2 separate regions of the Homo sapiens genome follow, and region 1 is linked to region 2. Evidence: fine-mapped expression QTL. A gene starts in region 2. The other region holds a variant in brackets. All regions are shown on one strand. Distances are between the middles of the regions.

The links.
Region 1: its variant is fine-mapped to the expression of GCNT2 in whole blood (TOPMed, PIP 0.93).

The regions. Positions count from the first base shown.
Region 1 is chr6:10,689,601-10,692,515 of GRCh38, reverse strand. The region is part of intron 1 of C6orf52 (chromosome 6 open reading frame 52); the gene reads left to right. It also overlaps a transcript of PAK1IP1 not described here. Among named protein-coding and RNA genes, the nearest start is that of C6orf52, 3.6 kb to the left of the region's middle. The variant C/G (reference allele first, on the strand shown) is at 1,273.
Region 2 is chr6:10,519,759-10,522,673 of GRCh38, reverse strand. It overlaps GCNT2 (glucosaminyl (N-acetyl) transferase 2 (I blood group)), which reads right to left and starts at 1,323. Exons shown (of 5, transcript NM_145649.5): 1 at 1,257-1,323. It overlaps LOC101928146 (a long non-coding RNA gene), which reads left to right and starts at 1,268. Exons shown (of 3, transcript XR_001743961.2): 1 at 1,268-1,326. RefSeq lists enhancers at 977-1,036, 2,757-2,915.

The DNA of each region.
Region 1 (2,915 bases), 170 kb before region 2:
TGAGCCGAGATCCCGCCACTGCACTCCAGCGTGGGCAAGAGTGAGACTGTCTCAAAAAAAAAGTCATTCTTTCTTTACTTTGTGCTAGTTATCTTCATTGTGTTACAAAAAATCAAATTATTTTAGGATTTAGAATAGATTACTTTTTTTGTAATGTGTAAGTTTCCACCAGAGAACCACTAAGATTAGAGGAGTGTGAAGTAAGTGTCCTCTGGACGTGAGACAAGGTATTAGTAAGCAGGACATTGTAAGTTTCACATTTTATCTTTAAAAATGTGCCTTTATGCATTTTACTCCACAACATATCTGTTTATTTTAATGCAAAAGTGTTACACCCTCATCCACAAATTAAAAACCGCTAAAACTTTCAAAATCATGCTTTGTATATTCTGTTACTTCTGGAATGTCCCTGGTGCCCTGTCTCCTTACCCCAGGGACATCTCAACTGCTGTTTGAGAAGTATTAATACTTGTTTAATACACTTTTTAAAATAAATTTTAGCTTATCACCATAAAAAGGTGATTATTTAGAATCTGTTACCAGACTGTCACACTTTTACTTGCTTAAGTAACTTTTGTTCCAACCAGGAATTTTAGAATATAGTTGGTTCTAGAATGGAAACCATGGTGTAAGCACCATGAACATAACTCAAAGTGGTTTTACTTTAAAAAGAAAAAAAAACCCCAAAACTTAGAAATCAGTGGAACCAATTACAGAGCTCAGAGGACTTAGACAACATCTAGTCCAGGTGTTACTAATCTGGGGGTTCCTGGATAAATTTCAGGGGTTTTGAATCCCATGAAATTATATGCAAATATGTGGATATACATTTTTGGAGGAGAGCATTAGGATTTTAAGGGAGGGAGACCACCCCTCATATTGTCTTATGCCCAATTTCTGCCTCCAAAGAAGAAGTAAAAACTAAAAGGCAGAAATGAAATCCACAAGCAGACAGCTCGGCACCACACTCTGGGCCTGGTAAAGATCGACCCCTGACCTAATCGGTTATGTTATCTGTAGATTAGAGACATTGTATAGAAAAGCACTGTGAAAATCCCTGTCCTGTTCTGTTCCGTTCTAATTACCGGTGCATGCAGCCCCCCAGTCATGTACCCCCGCTTGCTCAGTCAATCACGACCCTCTCACACGGACCTCCTTAGAGTTGTAAGCCCTTAAAAGGGACAGGAATTACTCACTTGGGGAGCTTGGTTGTTGGAGACGTGAGTCTTGCCGAAGATCCCGGCCGAATAAAGCCCTTCTTTCTTAAACTCG[C/G]TGGCTGAGGGGTTTTGTCTGCGGCTTGTCCTGCTACAATTTAAGTACTGTTTCAAAAAGATTAGTGTAAGCGTACCTCATTAAGGGTAAAATGCAGTGATTCAGTCTTAGGTTATAAATGCTGAGATATGTCTGGAGAAGTGACTTTTTCAAGAACACACAGCTAAATAACAGAGCCAGCAATGCTGCTCTTTTTTATGTGTCCTCGGCCTTGAACATTCTCTTTAACAGAGAGGAAAGCAGCAGCATTTCATTTTATGCATGGCTGTGGCAGTAGTTTCAGGTCTTAGATTGCGGATTTTCATTGTCTGAAGAAAGACAAAAGAGAATTATATACCTGTTTAACTGGATTGGAACTGAGCATAACTTCCTGTAAATCCTCCTATTCTCTTTCCAAATACAGGATGTAAAAAGCCATTTAATCTCATTCTTGTGAAATCTGCAGCTGCCAAGAAACAACCAATGTTGAGAGTTCATTAAACACTAAAGCACGAGAGGATATTGTTTTGTAGCTTTGCTTTTAAATTATTGATTGAAAAGGTTTTTGCTCTTGAGCTATGCTCTGATTTATTCATTCATTCAACAAATATTTGTTGAGTGCTTAGCTTCGGTTTGTTAAAGTAAAAGCTAGTTTTTCTTCTTGGGTGGTTGAGGGTGGTAAAGTGGATATCCTGGGGTACAAGCAGGACACAGTAGAGAAAAATCAGCCCTGTTAGAAATATGAGAGTCTCATATTCCTGCTGAATTCTCCTCTTTCTCAATGTGACAGGCAGCAACTCTGTTAAATTCAAGGACTATGGAGGTTGCACGTGAATGTATTCCTGGGGGTTTTGGTCTCCTTTGTATTTCCAGCACGAAGGGAAGTGGAGATAATGCTGTACGTGCCCTGAACCTGTCCAGTAGTGTGCCCCAATAGAAATTTGCTTCACCTGATTCATGGGAGTAATCTAGTTGAAACAGAAGGTTTGCATTTGGGGCTTTTAGTGAGCAAAACAGCGCTTGTGAGCCCTTGTCACTGTCATCTCCAAGGCCTAAGTGCCCATCTTTACCCTGGGATCTTGCTTACAACCTTCTGTTCCACAGCTGCTGCCATCTTCCTAGGTGGTTGCAACATGATTACATTGACCTCTCTCTTCCTCAGCCTCCTTAGCACCTCCTCAATGTTCAACTTCCACGTTGCTTTCCAACTGCAGCCTCAATGCTTACCTGGTTATAGCCATAATTGTGATTTTCTTTGTGTAAAATAAAGTCAGTCCTAAAGTGAGAGAAAAAAAATTTTACAGGAAAAGAATCTTTAACTGACATGTTTTATTGGCTGTCTAAACTACAGTAGTTAGGAATTGTGTTTTACCTGACATAACAATAGTGGTCTAAACAAGACATTAAGTAAACCAGCGGTAGGCCAGTCTAGTGCTAGTGGAAGGAGTCCTTAGTCATTGGTGACCTAGACTCATTCTGTCTTGGATCCCAGTATTCTTCTGCATGATGCCTTCCTGGATGTCACCTCATAGTCCAAGATAGCTGCAGAGTTATTCTGACACCAGCCGTCATATTTGTAATCCCAGCACCAGACCCTCCAGCTAAGCAAATACCCTTTTCCCACACAGCTTTCCCCTATCCCCTTCTACTAGTTCTGTTTACAT
Region 2 (2,915 bases):
AAGCTTCTGATCACTAAGAATAATTACATGAAAGAATATAGCCTCCCTTCTTCCGATAATTGCAATATGCTGTTCAATCAGAACAGAGTGCAAAGAAACAGATCCTTTACGCTGTAGGGTCCCCAGGGCCTGGGATTACAGTCTCCCTATTTCTTCTGGAAAACCACAGCCTACAGGTAACTACCCTCTATTTGGCCAATCTACTACCAGGTGCAGAAAGACTATTTACAAGTGACGACTCTCAAAGGCCTACATTTAAAAATAAGGAAAACAGAAAAGTAGCTTTGAGTTTGGCAAAACCTGAATTTACTTAGTAGACCTGTCTTTAATATCAGAAGATGGGTTTTCATAGAATGGCAATATGGATCTACTACTTTTCTACATGGCCCAGAGCTTCATTTTCAATTTTACCTATTATCAAATGAGGTTCATACCTCACAGGAATGTTCATACCTCACAGCAACTAATTAAATAAAATACATTTCAGGCTGTGGACGGTGGCTCACGCCTGTAATCCCAGCACTTCAGGAGGCTGAGGCAGGTGGATCACATGGAGTCAGGAGTTTGAGACCAGCCTGGCCAACATGATGAAACCCCATCTCTACTAAAGATACAAAAATTAGCCGGGCTTGGTTGTGCATGCCTGTAGTCCCAGCTACTCAGGAGGCTGAGGCAGGACCCAGGAGGTGGGGGTTGCAGTAAGCTGAGATCGCACCACCGTACTCTCGCCTGGGTGACAGAGTGAGACTATGTCTGGAAAAAAAAAAAAAAATTTAAATGCCAGACAGTACCAAGTACCTTATCAAATTCTGGAAACATTTTCCCTTGCCTGAAGGAACTGAGAAACATAAACCATTAAGTCTGAAGTGAACGTTGTTCTTTCCTACAAAGTTAAAAGTTGTAACTGAGATACAGAAGGATACTAATGATTTAGAGACAGATGGAAAACCCTCGTGCCCAGTAGGCCCATCATGTAATGAAACAACATACAAACATGCTATTCTTTGAAAAAAAAAAAACCTTTGAAAACAGAAATCTCATGACCAAATGACTCATTCAACATTTTTTGGTGTACTTACTTTATGCCCGGCACTGTGCTAGGTTCTGGAAATATAAAACATCCACGCAGCCCATTTGAGTACCAGCCTATTGGACCTTAAACTGCTGTCAGCGATTTAACAGAGGTAACACGAGAAGACCAGCTCCCCGCAGTTTCCTCCCTCCACCAGTTTCCCAGCACGCTGACCTCCACCTACCTCTCTCAGTTCCCAGGAGGGTAAGATTGCCCAGAGGCGTCCAGCAGTGAACACAGTAAGCCTGTTTAAGGTAAACGCAGTTTAACCCTAGCGTTTTAAGTGGAATAACAGAGGCTGGAATGTGAAAGTGGGAAGGTCTGTTTGCTTTCAGTCCCACCCCCAAGGCCTGCCCTAAGAGTCTGAGACAGGAGAACACACGTCTACAGAGAGCCTGCCTAGAGTCTGGATTTTTTAAGCTGCTGGATACCAGGTGCTACCTGACACCAGCTCATCCCCTGCCTCTAGAGTCCTGGAGGGCTTTGAGTTGATCACTTTCCACTCCAGGAATGTTATAAGAAACCGCTCAGAAAGGTAACTGCCCTGGGTGTAACTGGGTTTTTCATGAGGACACTCCAAGATAGACCTCAGGATAATTATTTGGGTGTTTTCCTAAGACTACCCTCCATTTTGCCCCCTTAGAGGCTGCTTTTTCAAGAGGGGAAGTTTTGGATTCCCTCACAGACCCCTCGTGTTTAAGGTTCCACTCTTATGTTTAGTTATTGGTAGGAAATCTTATAGTCTCTGCCCCAGGGTAACCTCTAACAGATTTAGATATGTGTTCTGCTCAAATGCTACCCACACTGGGGAAGGGGAATCCTAAGGTGGCAGCAGAATTTAGTAGAAAATGCCCTGGGCATTTTCAGAAGGCAAGTTCTCTCCTCTCTAATGCAAGCTGTATATCTTGAGCAAGTCACTTCCTCTCTCTGAACCTCTGGCTTTTCCTAGGCCAGGCAAACGGGCTCTTTACATACCCTTTCAGGAATGAACTGATTCCTGTCCCAGGAAACAAGCTAGTCATACCGTGCATTTAGCCATATCCCTCTCTTCTGCCAAACACTTTGCAGTCAGAAGCAGCTTATAAAATTCAGTGGGGATAAAGCAGGGTATGGTGGTGTGCACCTGCAGTTTCAGCTACTAGGGAGGCTGAGGCGGGAGGGTTGTTTGAGCCCAGGAATTCTGAGACCAGCCTGGGCAACATAGTGAGACATCAACTTAAAAAAAAAAAAAAAAAAAGAAAAAATCCAACTGAGTTAAAAAAAATTTTTTTCCAGTCATAAAGCCAGGATAAACTGAAGAAATAGCAAATCAACTTTTTTTTTTTTTTTTTTTTTTTGTGACAGAGCCTTGCTCTGTCACCCAGTGCAGTGTCACAATCTCAGCTCACTGCACCCTCTGCCTCCCAGGTTCAAGCAATTCTCCTGCCTCAGCCTCCTGAGTAGCTGGGACTACAGGCATCCACCACTATGCCCGGGTAATTTTTGTATTTTTAGTACAGAAAGGGTTTCACCATGTTGACCAGGATGATCTTGAACTCCTGGACTCAAGTGATCCACCCCTCTTGGCCTCCCAAAGTGCTAGGATTACAGGCGTGAGCCACCACACCCGGCCCAAATCAATGATTATTTTTCTTTTCTTTTTCGTTTTTTTTTTTTTTGAGACCGAGTTTTGCTCTTGTTGCCCAGGCTGGAGGGCAATGGCACGATCTTGGCTAACCGCAGTCTCTGCCTCCTGGGTTCAAGCAATTCTCCTGTCTCAGCCTCCGAGTAGCTGGGATTACAGGCATGCGCCACCATGCCCTGCTAATTTTTTGTATTTTTATTAAAGACGGGGTTTCTCCAT